Homo sapiens: one gene and its partners. The protein of the gene in region 1 purifies or fractionates together with the protein of each later gene. This does not show direct contact. Each region holds a gene or a part of one and is shown in the gene's direction. Other genes may lie near its edges.

What was found.
Region 2: the proteins of FAM171B (region 1) and MIB1 purify together in Homo sapiens (affinity purification with mass spectrometry; 2 studies listed by BioGRID and IntAct, with this or other methods). This does not show direct contact.
Region 3: the proteins of FAM171B (region 1) and MFAP3 purify together in Homo sapiens (affinity purification with mass spectrometry; 2 studies listed by BioGRID and IntAct, with this or other methods). This does not show direct contact.

What each region holds. Positions count from the first base shown.
Region 1 is NC_000002.12:186,689,996-186,697,093, forward strand, and holds the start of FAM171B (protein FAM171B precursor), read left to right. Parts: upstream 1-4,064; 5' UTR 4,065-4,178; coding exon 4,179-4,416; intron 4,417-7,098.
Region 2 is NC_000018.10:21,862,683-21,869,796, forward strand, and holds part of MIB1 (E3 ubiquitin-protein ligase MIB1), read left to right. Parts: intron 1-1,843; coding exon 1,844-1,984; 3' UTR 1,985-7,114. UniProt on the Homo sapiens protein: E3 ubiquitin-protein ligase that mediates ubiquitination of Delta receptors, which act as ligands of Notch proteins.
Region 3 is NC_000005.10:154,041,877-154,048,990, forward strand, and holds part of MFAP3 (microfibril-associated glycoprotein 3 isoform 1 precursor), read left to right. Parts: intron 1-7,114. UniProt on the Homo sapiens protein: Component of the elastin-associated microfibrils.

The sequences.
Region 1 (7,098 bases):
GTGTGTGTATGCAGGAAAATTTTTAAAATGAACCTGAACCTAGGTAGTCAGGGGACATATTGCAAACGGCTTTGTAAATCATGTTAGGAATTTTGGATTTGTGCTAAGAGTAATGAGGAGGTACCAGTAGGTTTTAAGTGGGGAAGAATTATATGTGTATAGTATTGTGCTTTGCTTTCTGATGGCTCTTGGGGCATTTTTCTAAAAATGATGAATTTCTAACCTTAACGATTACATTGTGTTTAGCATAAACTTTATCATGGACTATGTACCTGAAAATAACTTGCTGGATTAACTGGCATTTTTCATTCCTTTGTAAAACACACAGACAAACATTTAGGGCAAATGTAGTTATCAGCTTACATCTTCCTGAATGTCTGCCTATGTTTACTCCTGTCATTTGGTTGTGCCTGTGCCAAAAGTCAGTTATATTTTTCACAAACTTTTTCTTTTTTGCCAGTTATATGTGTGATAAGGAATATATACAATATGGATTTGAGATAAGTAAATTTTTCCTATTAAAACTAAGTTTAGGCCAGGTGTGGTGGCTCACGCCTGTAATCCCAGCATTTTCGGAGGCTGAGGCGGGCGATCACCTGAGGTCAGGAGTTCAAGACCAGTCTGGCCAACATGGCGAAACCCTGTCTCTACTAAAAATACAAAAATTAGCCAGGCGTGGTGGCATGCACCAGTAATCCCAGCTACTCAGGAGGCTGAGGCAGGAGAATCGCTTGAACCCAGGAGGTGGAGGTTGCAGTGAGCCAAGATTTTTCCATTGCACTCTAGCCTGGAAGACAAGAGCGAGACTCTGTTTCAAAAAATAAAATAAAATAAAATATAAGTTTAATACTAAGTATATGAGAAAATTCTACAAGCTTGGGAAAAAAATTGAACATAGAATGACTTGGCACTCTAATTGTGTGGCAAGGGTCTTTGAGAACTTCCACTTAAACTAAACCTGCAAATCATAGTGGTATATCATAACTGTGGTTTATGACTTCAAACTCTAGGATGTGGTTGAAATTCTTGGCCCTACATCAAAAGATTTGTGAACAAATATATATTTATTTATTCTAGGGTAAAATATGTGGCTTAAGATATATTTAGGATGTATTGACTTTGGTCTTTTGATGAACTTTTTTCATTTGCCAAGTACTATCCCCAATTGAATCGGATAATATGGCTTTTTTATATTGCACAGAAATTAAGCATGAACTACACGAATAATGAAGCACTTAAAAACTATTTAAATACTCTTGATTGACAACACTTACCTCTTAAAACAGTCCATAGTATTGAAAGATTTGAGGTCCACCCTCTACCAGGGTCCATGACCCAGTGGCTTTGCCTCCAGAAGGTCTGCTTCTACTATATTAAAAATAACTTGGCTACCCCAAGGCAGGATGACAGAAATCCTGGCTGCATTCCTTTCCTTCTGATCCACCAGTCAGGTTTTTGGAGCCATTTCCATTTTCTCCTTTCTTCTCTCCAGGAGCAGAGGTAACTTGGAAGAGATTGCCATAAAAACAGCTTGATGAAACTAATGGAAACTTGCTGCCTTCAGCTCTGGAGCCCCCTCCCCCAATGGCTCCTGCCTCACACAGACCAGGGAAAGAAAGTCCTGATGGAAGAATGATGTTTAGTGTGAGGGGCCTCACTTTAGTATCTATTTTCCCCAAAATTATGTGGTCCACATACCTTATTTTTGTTTTAAAATCACTAAAAAAGCAATACAAACTCATAGCAGAAGTCTCAAACGGTGCAGAAAGGTAAAGTCACACACTGTAAATGTAGCCTCTGGCAAGACATGGAGCCTCTCTGATCTCCAGTGTTTCCATTTGCTAAATAGGATAATGAGAGCTAATTTGTAGAGATGCTCTGAAGATATAATGAGATAATAGATGCAAAATACCTACTGTTATTTTATTTATGGTTATTGTGTCAGTCCATTTGCATTGCAGTAAACTTCGGGTGACATAAAGAAAAGCGGTTTACTTTAGGTCAGTTCTGCTGGCTGTACAACGCAAGTGTGGTGCTGGCATCTGCTCTGGTGAGACCTTAGAAAGCTTACAATCATGGTGGATGGTGAAAGGGAGACAGCGTGTCACATGACAGGAGAGGGAGCAAGCGAGAGAGAGAAGGGAGTTGCCACACTTTTAAACAACCAGATCTCTTGTGAGCTCAGAGCAAGAATTCAGTCATTACCATGAAGAGGGCACCAAGCCATTCATGAGGGATTCTCCTCTATGAACCAAAGACCTTCCACTAGGCCCCACCTCCAACATTGGAGGTCACATTTCAATATGAGATTTGGAAAGGACAAAACATCTAAACCATTAGTTATATATACACTATTTTCATTTGCTTAACCAAAAAATACTTTTCCAGTACTGAGAAGTTTGTTGTTTTCCAGCATATTGAAAACACTGGGAGGGACAAGGTAAGAATGATAAGGGTGGAAAAGGACAATGAACTACAATGGTAAATGGGGTGATGTCACAGCAGGTGACATTTATATTGCACTATGAGATGTCCCACAGTTACTCCAAATACAAAGAGACCACAACTGAACAAGGCAGGGCTCATTACTCTAGGCCAGTTAATGTTGATAAGGTCATAAGCAGCCACCTAAGATCTCAATTTGTCAATTTAGGTGTCACACTAGGCATATCTCCTCCTCTTCCAATTAACCGTATCTGTTTATTGTAGTCTTATATACTGTGTCTCCTACTCTTTTCTTCTCCTTTTCAGTTTCAATGACCTTTGGCATCTCCTATGGGTTTTGGCAAACACCTCTAAACTGGCATCTTCTCTTCCAATTTATCCCCCTTTAATCCATCTGCCATACTGAGAGCAAAGTGATCCTCCTAAAATGCACAACTGGTAGCAAGTTTCTTCCCTGATTAATTTCTTTCATTATCATCTACTGTGTGAATTTCAATTTCTGTATACAGCATCTAAGTTTATTACAGAAGTTAACAAATGTGAAGTACTTGAGCACACAGTAAGTACTATAGAAATGCTTGTTATTATTATTTTTTTAATGACCTGGTCTCCACTCTCCTTTTCAATCTAAAACACTGTCATTCCTCCATTAGAATAATTGCTCACACTTTTGCAAGCCCACTGTGCTTACACACATCTGGGCTTCACACACACACACACACACACACACACACACACACACACACTCTTCCACGTTCCTGATTTCTCCTGTGTGGAAGTCTTACTCTTTTTTATATTCTACCTCTCCTGGTGTTTCATAGCCCCTACATACACAAGATATTTTCTTCCAATTCTGAGACCTCTGGACTTGTATTGCTTTTCTGTTTGTAGCCACCACATTGGGTTCTAATTTGTTCCTGTGTTCCTCTCCCCTAATAGATGTTGAGCTCCTGGAATGCAGGGATTGTATTTTACTTATTCCAAGCACCTGAAGAAATGCTGGCACATGGTAAGCAACTAGTATTTAGTAAGATTTTTTTGAACAAATGAAAAGGATAGGCTAGAATTAGATAAAATGTAATTAAGAATATTTAATGATATGGAAAGAAATTCCCACTAGGGCAGAGAAAAGAAGTTTAGTCAAAATCTGGCGCGCTGCAGTTTAACTTCTAGCTAAGCAATGATGGCGGTGATGCAGCAAAGCCTATTTGTTTGAGATCCTGGCTTTTTGATCCGTTGGTGCCACCCACGCTATGTGCTGGATGGGGGTAATCAATATACCACCTTCTCTGCTACTTTGGGCTCAGGTGGAAGGAATTTTATTCCACTCTCTGCAAATCTTCCCGGTGCCTCAGTGGGAAGTGGACGCTGTGAGGGTCTACCAGCTCCCAGAAGGCCTCCCCTTTCTGTTTCCCCTAGGGCCCTCCACCCGGGCTGCAGCCCCAGCATCGCGTCCTCTCGGAGCAGCCTGGCCCCAGGTGGCTGCGGGGCGCGGGACCGCGGGCCCCGGCTCGCCCCTCCCCGCGCGTCACATGCGCGAGGATGCGAACTCCCCTTCCCTCCTCCTCCGCCCCCTCCGCCTCCCGGGCCTCTTCCTCCTGCCGGTGAGGGAGTGCTTGGCAGATTGCGCGAGGGGGAGCGAGCGAGCGGGCGCTGCCAGGAGCCCGCAGCCCTGGCGCCCGCCGCCGCCCGGAGCCCCGCAATATGCCGCCGCGGCCCTCTGGCTCTAGGCCATGGCGAGGCTCTGCCGGCGTGTCCCCTGCACCCTGCTTCTCGGCCTGGCCGTGGTGCTGCTGAAAGCGCGGCTGGTCCCCGCGGCCGCCAGAGCGGAACTCAGCCGCTCCGACCTCAGCCTCATCCAACAGCAGCAGCAGCAGCAGCAACAACAACAACAACAGCAAAAGCAGCTGGAGGAGGCTGAGGAGGAGAGGACAGAGGTGCCTGGGGCAACCTCCACCTTGACGGTTCCAGGTAGGTCCTGGCTGCCCAGCCCGGTCTTTCAGTCTCGGCCGGCGATCTCTTAGGGCCTCGCCGGCTTCCTCGCCCCTTCCCTATCCATTCCTATCCTCGTTCGTTCCTGTCACCATCCCTCCCGATCTCTCTCCCCAGACTGGCTGCCCAGCCTTTGGTCCCTTGATCTGGTGTCGGGAATCTGCCCTCCGGGTAATGAGCTTTCTGAGCAGCTCAGAGCACTGCGGTGGGTTGGAGAGGGGTCGGGAAGGCTGGGGGTGGGTGACTGCCTGGATTGATCTTTTTCTTTTCCCTCCCTTCTTCCTGAATTCTACCCTCTGCCCTGGGAATGACTGTAACACACACACACACACACACACACACACACACACACACACACACACCGTTCTTAAATCCCTTAAACATTTTGTTCTCTATCCTTTTCTCTCCTAGAGACTGAGAAATCTTGCCATGGACACCCACACACCCCTTTTCACCATTTCTCCATGCCTGCTATATTTAAATTTAGCCATGAAGAGAGAAATCTTTATATATTTTATTATTTATTTCTCTTTCTCTTTACCCCAGGAAGGGTTTAAGGGTTCATCTTATTGCAAAGAACTCTTTTAGTACAATAAGATGAAGCAAAACAAAACAGGAGTTTGTAATTGAAGGAAAGGGAAAAGGAGAGGGGGACACATAAGGTGAAGTCTGGAGTGGTGTTAGAACAGCAAAAGCCTATCCCTAGAGAGAGAAATCTCCTTACTTGTTAGTAGAACTTAAATGAGGCAGATTCTTGACACTGTTCAGTGAAGGTGTAGAAATACGGCTGTAGTATAGGTGGCTGTAACAGTTCCGCAGTTCCTCCCTCTTTCCCCCCATTAAAGCTCCATCGGTAAGCAAATAGCTAGATTATCCATGTATATTGCATCTCCCTACCCCGCAACCCACTTCGCTTCATGGCTGTAGATTCTTGTCTGCTATTTGGAAAGAAAAAAAGCCTCCAATTTTCTGGCACGAGGGCTTAGGTTTTGTGAAACCAAAGTGAATTTTATTATGACGTTTGTTTTTGTTTTAAAATCCTGCCTGGTAACACTATATGAGTGCTGAAAATGAGATTTGAAAGAGTGGAATCAGCATCACATTTTGTATTGCTTGCTCATCGTCAAAAAGCAGTACACAGGCATGCCAGCTGCGATTCATGACACAGCCAGGATGATTTAATTTATCAGAGTGCTCTGAGCATAGGATGAAATCACCAAAGTGTGCAGGAAAGCATGTGTTTCTGACACCCTCTTAAACCAATTAATAACACTCAAGTGTGGCTAAAAGTCTTGAAAGGTATACAGTGTATGGTGGTTTTCCTACCCAGCTTTTAATAACTGAAAGTGATAATATGGTTTGGGTGAGGCTGCTGTTAGACATACTGTTCGCTAAAGTTAAGGAAATTGGATATATCAGATTGATTGGCCTCATTAATAGAGATATTTCATAAATTCACTATGAAGCCGAAGTCTGGGAGAGTGTTGGTGGGTTTTATGGTTTGCAGTATATTTTTATTTCAATGGACCTTTCAGGAATATTAAATGAATTTTGACTACTGTAATATATATATATATGTTGTGATTAGGGTTATGAACTACTGCAATAATATGAAACCTGAATCCAGCATGCAAATTAAAATGTTTGCTTTCTGATATTTGTGAGGGAATATTCTGAAAAAGCTGATTGTCTGGGAAATTAGCAGTTTTTGTTTTATTTACCTATTAGATTGAGATAAAGGAACCACACTCTTCGATAGATCAAACTAGAACCTGAGAAGTAACCTATGATGATTCTTCTTCCTCAAAAACTCTAATTACCCAAGCCAGTGGCAAACAAGGGAGTAATTCAATTGATTGCTGTTTTAGTTATTGGAATATTGAGTCTTATAATGCAACACAGCTTATAGACAAATGAAGTTAAAATATTCCTTTGAATGCATTGTGATCTCTCCATTGAACTGGTCTTCCTGTTTCAACCTTTGTTTCCCTACTGTCTGTTCTCCTCACACAGCTAGCGATCTTTAAAAAAAAAAAAAACATTAAATAGGATCATTTCTGCCCACACTCCTCCAATGGCTTCCCGTCTCTCTCATACTAGATGCCCAGATCGTGAAAATGGCCTACCAAGGTCTAGATCCTTTGTATCCTCCTTTTCCTCCCGTCTCCTTTAGCCCTTACCCTAACTCTCTCCACTGTAGCCACACTAGCTCTATTTTCTTTAGCTTGCAAGTGGACCCAAGTGTTTGGCCTTTGCACTTGCCATTTTCTCTGCCTGGAATTCTGGAACTTCACATTTTTCAGGTTTGCTCAAGTGTCTCAGTAACTGACAGACCTTTTCCTGACCAGGTGTTTAAAATAGTAATCTGCACATCCTTTTTGCTCTTACCCAGATTCATTCTCCTCCATGGTACTCATTATTCTCAGCTGTTCTAATAAGCCTGTTTTTCCCTTGATAGAACATAAGCTCTGTGAAAACATGGACTTTGTTTTGTTCACTGCTATATTTCTAGTATCTCGAAGAGCACCTGGTTGGTACCCATAGACATTCAACCATTTGTTGAATGGATGGACGGATGGATGGATGGATGGATGGATGGATGGATGGATGAATGAATGAATGAATTCACTTTCTCAGCATTTGTTCGTCTTCATTGGATAA
Region 2 (7,114 bases), on another chromosome or scaffold:
TTGGTTCACTCTAGGGCTTGCTTTGAGGAAGGTTTTCAATCCCGCTGAGCCTCGTTTTCCTCATTTTCCAAGTGGGAATGATACCAGGACTGAGATTGTATCCTATCTAAGCATAGTGCCTGACAAGTGTTCTCAGCTACTTCTCAGCACTGCTCCCCACCCTGCACCATGTATTGCATGATACATTGCCTTCTTTTTATGCAAGAGCAGCTGAGTACCTAGATTCAGGGAATTTCAGTTAGACTGAATGGAGCTATTTTCATCCATTTCCTATTACGTTTTGGTTTATATAGGTTTTTTTGTTTGTTTGTTTTGAGACAGAGTCCTTGCTCTGTCGCCCAGGCTGGAGAGCAGTTGATGCAGGATTTTTCTCAACCCCTTTGTCATACTTGCGACAGAGGTGCGCTGCTTACTTGGCCACTGTGCTCAACTGTTTGCGGGAGGGAGCACATGAACGAGCAATTGCAGGATCCATGCAGCGGCACCCAGGTGGGGGTGCCTGCGACTCCAAAGCCCCTGAGGGCATGTTAGAGTGCTCTCTTAGTTCTGCCGTCCACGGACAGCGGTGTGTTATCAGCTCAGTTGGCCCCTTGCCTCATAGTGTGGGGTAGCTGCCCTCCGCCAGTGAGGGCAAAGGGCCAGTGTAACAGCCTTATTTTGGGTACCCACACTCGGTGTGTCCCGAGCTCTTGTCCAGTGTTCAAGAAGAATGAGGTCACCTGGACACTTGAAGGATGGTGAAGGCAGAGAGTTTTATTAAGTGATGGAAATGGCTCTCAGCAGAGAGGGGAACTGGAGTGGGGGTGGGACGGGTAGGTAATCTTCCCCTGAAGTCCGGCCATCTCTTCCCTGAAGTTAAGCCATCTCTCCTCCGAAGTCCAGTCATCCCTTTGAAGTCAAGTTGCCTCTCTCCCCTCTACTACCTGGGTCTGGAGTCTTTAAAGGCACAACATGGGAGGAGTGGGCAGGGTGGGCTGTGGGTAGTTTTGGAAAAGGCAACAATCGATTGGTAAAAAGACATTATTTAGAAAGAACCAGTTGGGCTGGGCGTGGTGGCTCATGCCTGTAATCCCAGCACTTTGGGAGGCTGAGGTGGGCAGATCACGAGGTCAGAAGATCAAGACCATCCTGACCAACATGGTGAAACCCCATCTCTACTAAAAATACAAAAAAATTAGCTGGGTGTGGTGGTGCGCACCTGTAGTCCCAGCTACTCAGGAGGCTGAGGCAGTAGAATCACTTGAATCCAGGAGGCGGAGGTTGCAGTGAGCCGAGATTGCGCCACTGCACTCCAGCCTGGCGACAGAGTGAGACTCCATCTCAAAAAAAAAGAAAGAAAGAACCAATTGGGAGAGAGTGGGCAAGCAGGAATAGAAGTTCTCACTTTGGCCTGTGGGTTTCAGGCTTTTCAGCTCAAAGGTTGGGTTTCACTGGGGACCCACCCTTGTCTGCCTAGAATTTCTCTGCCTCCTGCCTCTATCACAGCGGCGCGATCTTGGCTTACTGCAATCTCTGCTGCCCGCGTTCAAGTGATTCTCGCGCCTCAGCCTCTTGAGTAGCTGGGATTACAGGTGTGAGCCAGGGTGTCTGGCTGTGTTTTATATATTAATAGTTTTTAATCTTATGTAGTACCTTTCATACTATCCTGATAGTACAACCAGTGTTTCTATTTTATTTTATAGGGATGACATTTTAACTATTTAAAAATGTTAAAAAATTGTTTTTAAAAACCACCAAAATATTATTTGACTAAAACAACTAAAGAAAATTAATGATATATAACAGTCTGTCACTTTCCAAATATAAAGTGTCTAATTTATTACTTTGTTATCTCACATTACAGACAATGTGCCCTGTGTGTCTAGATCGTCTGAAGAATATGATTTTCCTTTGTGGTCACGGAACCTGTCAACTCTGTGGAGACCGCATGAGTGAATGTCCTATCTGTCGCAAGGCTATTGAACGAAGGATTCTTTTGTATTAACTAAGACACATGGTGTATTTTGTTAGCTAATGTATCTAGTCATGAGATCTTAATAGGCTTTTGATCTAGTTGGAAGTTCTGATGAGTTAATTTCTAATATCATAGTTTCTTTACTAGAGTATAATTGGGCTGTAAATGTACCAGAACAAAAAACCCTACAAAATGGTGTTGGAAATTGTGTTTTTTGTTTTTGTTTTAAATTTGAAACATCAAATTCATGTAACTCATAGGATAATTTACCTTTGGCTTCTAAGAGGAAAGTCCTTTAAGGATATCCTTTTTTAAAAAATTGCATTTTTCTCTTATAATTTGTAAATTTGTTGGATCTCAAAAGACATAATTCTTTGTGATCAGTTATCCTTCATTTCATCGTGGTTTTACACAGTGAGTTGATAACAGGTTCTCTGAGAAGTCATGCATCAAATAAAAGAGGCAGGTCAAACAATTATGTCACATGGTAAATTATAAAATGACAGTACAAGTTCCAGATAGTTAAGGGAATACCGAAGGGATGATTCTTTTTTTAAGATAACAGGAAGTTACCCACATGTTTGTTTCTGAATTCTTAGAGTAAATGGAAGCATAGAATGAGGGAATAATGACTTTGCATTTCTCTTGTTTTCTAGATTCAAAAGGAACATTGTTTAACTTGAATCAGATTACCAGTTTCAAGGTGACTGATAGACAAGAAAAGGAAAAATAAGCAATAATAGTGGGCAACTGAAGAGAAAAAAAAAACGAGTATCTATTAACTGGCCACTAACAGTTGCCTTTCTTACATTAATTTATACACTATTTTGTTCAGCCAGTGTTTTTAAAAAAAATCTATGAAAAGTGTACTTCCGGTTTTCTGTGATTACTTATCTGGGCTTGATCTGACCAGTGAAATGACATTGCCCTATTTGGACCTCTGAGGTTCTATTTAGCTTTGCAGATGTACATAGTATCCCAGTGATCTGCAAAATTAATGCCTTTTCCAAGAAAAAATCTTTTCTTCTCTGTATCAGTTAATTCTGACAGTGTTAGTGATTCTGTCTTCATTATAGGCCTTATTTCCATTATCTCTTTCTTTATAGTATTTTTTGTTATAAAGAAAACAGTCTTTCTGTGTATACCTACGGATGAGGGTATTATTTAAACTGCCAACAATATCCAAGACATGGTCAATAACCTAATTATAAATACTTTAGAAAGAGTGACCAGGACATGTATAGAAATGTCTGCTTACCTGTAGACTTTAAAAACAAACAAAATTTTTGGAGCATTTAATCATTTTTTTTCTCCTTTTATCTCCTTTGTAATCTTATTGTCTCCTGAGTAAATATACACATAAATGTTTGGGGATTCATTGCTGCTAGATTATATCAGGTGTTTACATAGTGTCTACTATATGCTGTTGATAAGCTTTTTCCTAAAAATAGTTATCCTCTTTTGTAGTTTTTTTCCCTCCTTTAAATCTGGCTAGCTTTTCTTACTTCAGTTTTTATAGAACACCAACTAAATTTGAAAGTATGAAGTCTCTAGCCCTCTTACACTGTTTCTGGCTGTTTAATCCTTGCTGCCTTTGCAAGTCCTGGTGAAAGCAATGGGGAGCTTTGCTGGCTGGTTTTGTAGTCTCAACAATTCCATGTCTGTGTTTAGCTGAGTAACTGCTATCATTTAGAACAGTAAAATTTTTATAGATTTCAAATTTGAAAATTCATGTACACTCAGTTATCTAATAAGGGGCCACCGACGCTGTTTTTAAAACTATTTTGAAGTTATAAAAAGGTAGAACATCTGACTGATGATGTTCACATAAAGAGACAGACAGACTATCATGTTGCAGACATGAAAACAGCATGTCAGGTTTTTCCTTTCCTTCCATGCCATGGGCTACCCATCTCTTCCCACTAGATCACCTGGTGAGGAGGGAGCACCTGGCTGACTCATGCAGAGTTTGGCCAATCAGAGAATTGTGTGGTCTCCAGCTCTACTTTCCTTAAACAAATCCTTTCTGTTTTCTGAGCTGCAGTGCTAAAACAGATCCCTAAAAGGTAATAGCATCTTCCAGACTAGTTTAATTATTTCCTTTATAAGAATATGACATAAATTTTTATTATAGAAATAATGTCATTATAATTTTAGTGCTAGTACTTGTGGGTTTTCTGTATTTGTATCACCTTGAAATTTGTTCCATGAATAGAAAATACTTCTTTATTCATGTTTTCAATCACTTAGAATTATTTTAAATTTATTTTGGGTTTGTGAGAGATAATAAGATTAAGAACTTCATCATTTCAGTGACTTTCCTCCAACTCTCTGAATCTGCTACCTCTTATTATATGTCCCTTAGCAGTACTTTTCCAGTTAGGTTCGTTACCCTGCTCATTAGCTAAACCTCTTTATCTTGTGCCTCAAAAGAGCTTTTACTTTTCTTAGAAACATTTATAAAAAAGAAAAAAACTGACACGCATTCATTCAAAAAAGTATTTATTGGGCTTTAGGGATTAGATACACAACAGTGGAAAAATGGCATCTTAGCACACTCAGAATTTATTGTGCAGCAGTTGTGTATTTTAAGGAATCTGTAGTTAAAAGGAAGAGATCCAAAGGTCCTGATAACATTTCCTAACGTTTCAGAAGAGTTGTCATTGAGTAGTGTTTGGATTTCCTCTCTGTATCCCTCACCCTACCATTTTCTCCTTTATTCTTCTAAGATTGTTAGCGTTGTTACTCAAAACATACACATACAACATACCAGATGGTGCTGTTCTAATGGTATTTGTTCACGTAATTTAACGTTCTTACTGCTTATACTATATACATATTTAATTTTGTTGGGAGCAAGAAGGTTTTCAAGAAAAGATAATTTTGTATTAGTGTAGGAATATATTAGACAAATGTTTAGTTGGTCAAATTATGCATAAGATATTTGTAACTTTAAACATTGCAAATTGACCAGCTAGCTATGGAAGCATAAAATTAATTGATAATTAATGTTGGAAATACATTTCTAAAATTTATATTTTTATGGTGTTAGCCTGTAAGAGCATTTTAGCATATTGAAATGCATGCTGCTTAAGATGTGTCTGGTTCAAATATCAAAACTTGCTGGGTCATTTTTACATAGTAGAAACATACTGTCTATGTGTTGCCCAATTGCTGTTTGTCCACTCTGAATTCTGGACCCTTTTTGGACTAAGAATTAGTTAAATTCATGAACTAAGAGAATTAGAGATGGGGTAGAGTAGGATCAGGACAGTGGGGTTACAACAGATAGGAAAGGAAAGTCAGCATTTGAGTGTAGAGAAAAAAAGAGGATCATACAGATGTCATCAAATTATAGGCTTTAATACAGGTTGCTTTTTTTAATCCAAAAGGAAAAGCACTTATCCTATCAGAATGTCTACCATGTTTTATAGTAATAATTTGTGTAAAAAATTGAATTTTTGAATAGTTTTTTGTATTTTTTGTGATGAAAAACTCATAACATAAAATTTACCATATTAACTGTTTCTAAAGAATACAGTTCAGCCATGTGAAGTACATTTACACTGTTGTGAAGCAGATCTCCAGAACTTTTTCATCTTGCAAAACTGAAACTCCATACCCATTAAACAACTCCCCTTTTTGTTTTCTCCTCAGTGGAATAGAATTTTGACTCCATATAAATCAAGAAACACCTAAATTCTTTAGTTGTTTGTGTTTGCAAGATCTAAGGTCATGGTAAACATTAAGTTCTTAAAATTTTTGGGAGGGACAGTGCACCTCTCCTCTGAATTGTTAGCAATTAAATTGAGTAGGTTTTAAATGTCTATTCATTGGAAGGGTTTGTTATTTCATTTTGAGCCAGAGGGGAGAGGCACATTTTAAATATCAGAATTAGATTAGCTTTGAGTTTGTACAATTGGGAACATAATAGATTTTCATAAATTATGTGTGCCTTGTTGGAAGTGTCAACTGTCTTTATGTCTGCTTGTAAAAGTTTCAAAATATGTTTTCCCTCAAAAAGGCAACGTTACTTCATTTGCTTGAATATTATGATAGGAATGCTTACTGATATTACTTGATAGTCATATATAGCCTAGGAAATTTAACATATATATAACTATAGCAGTATTAATAATGATAGTTGTACTTCTTTAAAACATTAAATTTGAGGAAACTTTAATGCTGTCTCGTGTACATTGCTTTACTACAGTGAGGGGGAATATCCTTTAGATTGAGCCTCAATTTACTGGTTAGTAGTATGTGAAACTCTGGTATAAAAACGTAAACTAGACAGTAGAGCCGATGAATTAAAATTGTAAATTGCTACATTGGCATTTTCTACCTCCTTTTCTGTCAGAGTATTACTTTTTCCAGCATTTATTCTTATTTGTGAGTAAAGAGGAAATGGGAACCTGAGGTTAAAATTGACATTTTTGTTTCATTGAGAATTTAAGCAGTAGGTACAGGAGAAGTGACTTGTCACATTAATTTGGTGCCTAAATCTGTAACTACAAGTTGTGATCGACATGTACAAAATGTCTAAGAAAGGTCATATGCTGAATATTTTACTTTTCCTGTATAGTCTGCATGATTTGTTTCATAAACCCAGCTTATTTCCTCCAAAAAGCAAAATGGTCCTGTAATTTTTAAAGTAAAATAAACGTGCCATTTTGTCTGCAATCTATAATTTCAGGAAGTTATTGAAAGTTCTGACTCAGGGCTTTTTAACAGTTCAAGCAATTGTCAGTTATATTTTGGAAACTCCATCTGTGTAATTCTCCAGTGCCTTGAAAGAATTATTAACTTGGCAACACTATTAAAACTTTATAAAAGATGGTCTTTAGTGCACGTGTATCATTATATACACGTTTTAAAGTCATATTGCTTAGCTTGTTAATAATGATTCTGCATGTGTGCTGGGTTTGGGTAATTCTTTAAAGGAAGTTTTCTAGATTTGCACTTGATGTTTGTTTTTTAAAAACTGATTATTTATGGCCGTGACACTGTTACCAGAAAAGTAATTCTAATTAAGTTATTATGCAAAGTCATCTATAAGTAGCATCTGGGAAGAGGAGATCGAGGCCACAGTTTGCTATTTTAGTATGAAAGGAGGATCTGTTTGGGAAACATAGATTGTCTTCCCCTCAAATGAGGGGA
Region 3 (7,114 bases), on another chromosome or scaffold:
ATATTTATAATTTACCCACATTAGTTCATCTTATCCTCAAAACTACCCTATGATGCAGTTACTGTTAATATTATTTTATTTAATAAATGTGAAAACTAAGGCCTTGCAAGCCTATGGCTTCACCCAGGGGTAGGATCAGGCACCTTAACTCTAGAGCCCATTCTCCTAACCACTGAGCCATGATTGTCTTACAATTTTGATACTGCAAAACTGGAAGAATTGTCTGGCTATTATCTAAGCTGTTCATAAGCTGAACAAGTAGATCTGAGGGTAAGAGGAGTTCTGTTTTAACTAGACTGAGTTTCAAATAGAGATGTTTCAGACTATAGAGGGGGAAAAATGGCCTGGGAAGATCATAAATCTAAGCCTGTTTCATTGATGTTTTTGTCATTTGCATCCAGTAGCTATTCAGCAAATATACCTATGGCAAAAAGGATATAAGTTATGGGTATAACTGAAATAATCCTGGGTTTAAAGCAAAGCTCTGATAAATACAGACGATGTTTCTCCAGGTGCCAGAAGATATGTTGAAGTTTGAGCTCAGACTGACCAAATGCTAGTTATGGGGTATGTGATAGCTCCAAGGTAGTAATATAAAGGCTATTTTAATTAGAAACTTTTGAGTAAATGGCCCTCAGGATAGTGATTTCTGTTTGAATGTCACTAACCTTTTTTAGTTACAGATCCCTATAATAATGCTTGAGTCTAGGCAGAACAACTTTGTGTTTATTCTTTGCAAAGGGTAGGGTAGTGCTAACAACCTGCTCTTCATTTGCTTTTTCTCCCCTTTGCCGATTCAGAATGCTGCTTTGTCAATTTGTGTGCCTGCTGTAGGAACTGGTCCGTTTTCCAAGTGTGACAGTGCAGGCAGAGAAGGGTGGATGAGCTGTAAATGCAGCCTAGAACACATTTGATTATAGAGAATGAAGCACTAATATCCCAATATAATTGGAGTTTAAAAAAAAAAAATACCACCTGGGCATCAATGTGTTTCCCTGCTTTGCATTTTCCCAGAACTATTTCTGCAAACATCAGTTTCCTCAGCCAACTTAATATTGAGTCACCAGAACGGAAATCAGCCATATTACTTCCTTATTTGTGTTGAAAATTGGAACAGAATGGAAATATTTCTTCCCTCAGAAGTTGGCAGGAACGGCAACAAGACAATCTGTTAGGGGTGACAGCTATAGGCTCTTCTCTTTTTTAAAAATAATATAGTCAATATTCAACATGGTTTTCTGGGGTAAAATCATCCACATTTCTGATTCTTTATGATCCTAGCAAAGCTTACATTCTGTATACCTGAAAGATGAAAAAGGAGTTGGATTAAACTTGAGTCTTACACTTATCTATTACATTTTTATTTATTAATGCTGAAGAAAGGTAATATAGGCTGGGCGCGGTGGCTCACGCCTGTAATCCCAGCACTTTGGGAGGCCGAGGCAGCCAGATCACCTGAGGTTGGGAGTTCAAGATCAGCCTGTCCAACATGGAGAAACCCCGTCTCTACTAAAAATACAAAAAATTAGCCAGGCGTGGTGGTGCATGCCTGTAATCCCAGTTACTTGCGAGGCTGAGGTGGGAGAATCGCTTGAACCTGGGGGGTGGAGGTTGCAGTGAGCCGAGATCTCACCATTGCGCTCCAGCCTGGGCAACAAGAGCGAAACTCCGTCACACACACACACACACACAAAAAGGAAAGGTAATAAAAAATTTTATCAAGTAACTTCATCCACAAACATAGTATAGCCCTTTTTAACTGATAAGAAGAAGGTGACACTTTGGTTTTCCTTTTTGAAATCTGTTCTTGGGTTTCAAATGTCAGCTGCTACATTAAAAACAGCAGGCATAATATATATATATATATTTTTTTTTCCAAATACAAATGCACGTACTCTTGTGTCTCCCATGGCATCTAATATACCTGCCTTAATGACCTCAGCCCACTTAACTGATTTGGTGAACAATTCTGCATCTGAGGCTGTATATGTGAGGAAAAATTAAAGGATTGGAAATGAAAGTAAAATAACTATAGTATAAAGGATCATATGTTCAAAGCATGCAGGCCTAATATTATAGGAAGTCCCAAACATATAAGTGAATTGCATTCCTAGAACTGACACATTTGTCTTTTCTCTGTTGCATTCACAATATAATTACATTTCAGTCACATTGTCTTAGATACAGTTGGCTGTTTCTGGGCTGTCTTTCAAGCTGGTTTGTAAATTCCTGAGGGTCTAGGACAGTGTCCTAATTCTCCTTAGCAACTCTTGCACCACCTACTGTACTTCATCTTCCACGATGGATCCTTGACCTAGCTGAGCTGTAGTTTTAAAGTCATTAGTCTAGAATGAGCAGAATGGTCATAGTCAATGCAGTTTGTGCTGCAAGTAGCAGAAACCCATTCAAGCTGACTTAGCAAAAAGGAGACTTAGTGTGAGGAAATAATAGTACCCTGATACCAAGGATGATTTGTTCTTCCCTCACTATTTTTTTCTGCTTTGTCACCTTCTTGGACACGTATCTTTGCCAGTGTTTTCTCTCACAGCTGCTGAACAGCCTGTTACCTGCAAATGGGTTATATCCGTTAGTCTTTCAAATCAGAAGTCCTCTGTGTTCAGGATGTACATGGTATGAGTGAAGTGCCCAGTATTAACTGGATGTGTAAGGCTATTGTGCAGCCTCTTTCTCTTGTGGCTCAAAATCAGTGTGCCAGGTTTCTTCTGCCATGTTTGGCCTAAGAGCAGTTTAAGGGAGTTTATAGTGTTTTCCTAAATCCTGTCTGGTAGGTAGAGGCAAATGGCTATGTCTGTACAACACAAGAACCACAAATCTTGGCCACATGGGCAGTTTGCTTGCCACACTCCACTGTGTAAGGAAGAGACTAGAGATCTATGATGAAGATTGCCTGGCAGCCACAGACACAGTTCAATAACTTTTTGTGAACTTAATCTTTTTTCTCCTGCCTAACCATTTCCGCATTTATTACGTGTTTGCACATTCATCTTCACTTTTGTGGTTTTAATTTTGAGTAAAATTTAATAAAGTTGTTTCTTTTTTTAAAAAAAAAAAAGGGTCACAGGAGTGCCAGGAAGTAGAATTCTATCAGGCACCAAAGCACCATGTATGAGTCTCTCTTTGTCTTTCTCCTGCTCCTCTTCCTGTCTTCCCACTCTCTCCCTTCCCCATCCCTCTTGTCCTTTCTTACAGCTTCTCCTTGTATGTGGCCCAAACCTGACTGCCTCAGCCCCCACATGCCTCCTTTTCCTCAAATGACCCTGACCCACAAGGGTCTCAATTCCAAGTTCCAAGAACAAAGATTCTATTAGCTTACTTTGCCAATAGGTTGTCTTCCTCCTAGACCCAAGAAGATAGGGATAGGGCTCAAAGAGGGGAGCCGTTGGGTAAGTAGATCACGACAAATCTTCTCTACCACAAACTGAGGACACATACAATGTCATATCATGGTTGGGATCCAAGCTCAGTTTACAATGCCTATATGCTCCATAATATTGCAAAATATTTGCAATGAGAAAAAGAAAAATGTGAAATTTTAAATTTAAGATTAAAACTGCATAATGGTGTCCCCTTCCCCCCAACCCCCAAGATTTTTAAATGGTTGCATGGTATTCTGAGTGTTTTATAATGATGTAACTATCAAATGTAAATTTTAGTTCAATATCTGAAAGAACCATGAACAATAATAATAGAGCTTATTCAGTGATTACCATTGCCAGACTCTGTGTTTTATGTATACTACCTCATTCAGACTTTGCAATAATCCTGTGAGAATAGATTCTGTTATTTTGCCCATTTTAAAGATGAGGGGCTGAGGCAGGGAGATTAAGTCATTTATAAAAGTTGCAAGGCTGGTTAGAGTCACAGATCGTATTTGAATCCTATACTCTGAACCTCTCTGCTACCCTGCTCTTATTAGAGACCTTCAATTTTGCTGATCTAGAGTAATCTAAATCTAGAATGGAATGTGAGTGATTATATCTCTCATTGGAAATATTCAAATAGCCTGAAGCACCATTCTGCAGGTCAGTTGCAGAGGAAATTGAGGAACTGTATTAGTGGCCCTTAGATGCAGTACATGAATCCAATGCCTCAGAAACACCCAGGGAGCCAATTAAAAGTCATAAATTCCAAGGCGCAAACACAGAGTTTCTTACTCGTTCTGGGTTGGGACCTGGGAATCCATATTTTTAAAAAGCTCTCCTGACAGTTGTGATATTCAACCTGGTTTGGAAACTGCACTTGGTGATCTTTTATTCCTACCATTATCCTCTAGGACAACATGGTAAATGAAGGTATCAGGTTGGGAGTCGGAAGAATGCATTTAATTAGGTACTTTTAAGGTCTTCCAAGATTGTTAGCATTGACTGTTTTTGTTTCAGAGAATTTATAATAGGCAACTGTATGTCAGTTTGAACAATTATAATCCCTGTTGCATAACATTATTCAATTTATAAAGATCTGTCACATACTGAATCAAATTTAAACTAATCTCCATCAATATTTATTGAGCATGTGCTAGTTATGACGTACAGCAATAAAAAATATAGGCCTTGTTCTTAAGGGGTAGTTGAGATGGGATAGACTGCCTAGCAGTACAGAGCAGCATATACCAGCGCCAGATGAGTACGGTAGGTGGGGAGGGCTCTGGGGTGAAGGAGAAGCCATCCTTTATACAGCTATACTCTGAATTTATGTAGGAGGAATAGCTAAGGCCTTGATAGGAGGTTCAGGAAGTTTGCGGGAAGGCAGAATTCCATGTGGGAGTTATGCTTTGCCAAGCCTTGTGTTGGTGAGGACACTCATTGCCCTGCAGCCCTCGCCTGTGACAGCTGTTCATTCTGCTGAAGTTCCTGAATCTCAGAGCAGGAAGACCGAATCCATTTCCTTTCTTTCCAGTTTCTTCTACACTAGCTACTTTGATCCTGGGGGGATGTGACCATACCCCCAGGTGATCTGCCCACGTTTGAGCCTCTCAGTTGTTTGACGTCTTCATCATGGACGAATATCTCCCTCACTCACTTCAGCCACTGCAGCTTCCGGAGTCTATCTCCAGTTTCACCATTGGCCCAGTTAGTTCTCCTCCAGAATCAGGAATCAGACGCAGCATTTTTGGCCACTGCCTGTCTTTACCACAATTTTTTAGCTGTTTTTTGTGAACAACTCCTGACCAGTGACCCCTCTCATTTTTCCCTGTCTCCTGGCCCTCTACCTTGAGTGCTTTCCTCCCAATTTTTATTCCTCTTTATTCTTCAGGTCCTGCACCTGAAGAATAGGTGCTGCACACCTCTTTTTCTCAGAGGCTTTCCATGATGAGATTAACTCCCCATGTTGGGTCCTCCTGTAGCATCTGTATTTTCCCTTGGGTAACATTGAGTTTATTTTGTATATATGTAGTTAGTGTCCATCATCTGCCAGACTGAACTTCGTGGAGGCCGAGACAATGTCTATGGGGCAGTAGGTAGGCACATGGTAGGTGCTCAATAGATACTGTTCAGTATATGAAAATGTATCCCTCCGATCTCAAACTCAGTGGTGGGGAAGAGTAGAAAGGAAGGAGATGGCAGGTTAAGAAATGAGGTGGCATTAAAATAAACTGGAGTTGTGGGGGGCTTTTTGTTTTGGTTTTGGTTTTACTACAGAGAGAGCAAGCCTCCAGCTCAAAGCCTTTCAGCAGGCAGTAGTATCTCTGGAAGCTAATAACACTTCTTTGTTTTCATTATGTTTATGTGTACGGTTACATTTGTCCACAGAACTGATGTAGAGTTTCCTTTTTAAATAAATGTGAAAGTAAAAATAAAATGAGTTGATTTAAAAGAAAAGCAGAAATGACGATAATTTGGTTCATGGATATAGTAAAAACAACAACAACAAAAAAGACAGGAGAAGGAATGAATGAAGTTTGGGAAGTGCTGCCCTGGATGAAGCTATAGGAACTCCTAATCAAAGTTCTGGAGAAAGCCTGGAGCATTTTTTCAGCACACTCATAGCCTGTCACCGTTGAGAACCACTAATCTAGAATAAAGTACAAAATTATGTCCTCCAATTGCTGTATATCTTGCAGTGAAAAAGAGCTTGGAAACTTACATGTCAAGCCCCTAGCACAGTGCTTGGCTGATGGCAGTCATTCAATAAATGTTATTTCCATTGTTTCTACCCATCACCCCCTCTTAAAAAAGAGACTGTATTCCAAACTAGATTCTCCTACTAACTTGTAGCATGTCGTAAGAAGCAAATCACTGTGCACTGAATCAATTAGATTATATTACTTCCAAAATCCCCTCTCTGCCTAAGTCTTTGTTTCCTTTAGTGTCCTTTTTGTGCGGTTTTAGGAGGAAATGGAAATAAACACGTTTAGTGTGTCATGTATTGCCAAAGTCTGAAGGTTTTTTATTTTACTCTGTATACCCCATCCTTAAATTGTAAAGATTTAGAAAAGTATTTGTCACCATTCAACCATCCTTTCAAGGGTTAATTAATGAAAATTAAATGACATTTGCACCGTATTGTAATTTAGACTTTGAGATATTTAATGGCAAAATACAGTGATTCATTGTTTTTTATGTTCTGTGATCAAGCAGCCTTCATATAAATATAAAGGAGAGTAAATGTCATTTCCAAAACTAATTATCTTGGTGCTTTATAAGACATAAAGCTAGGCATTTCATCCCATATTTTATAGAAATAAAAGTTGAATTTTTTCTTTGAGAGTTGGTGGCTTAAAGGGGGAGTCAAATTACCAGGAAGGTGATCATAAATACATAGACTTTTGGACTAGGATGTTATTTTGCCTTTTATTCAAGATATTTTGCTCTTCTTTTAAATGTGTCTAACAATCTGTCCCTGTAGTTTTATATTTGCATTTCTACTAACTAGACACTTAAGATGTCAGTTCCTCCCTTAGCTAGTTTACAGAGTTTGAGCTAGAAATTTGGTATGCTTACAAACTATTAAATACACTGTACTTTGTCTCTTCGTATTGGAGAAACTATTAAAAGAAAATTCTGTTGTCTAATGTTCTTGCCCATGAAGGAGGTTCCATAGCTTTAGAAGTCAATAACTCTATTTATGTGTATGCAGTAAGTGCAGCTTTCTT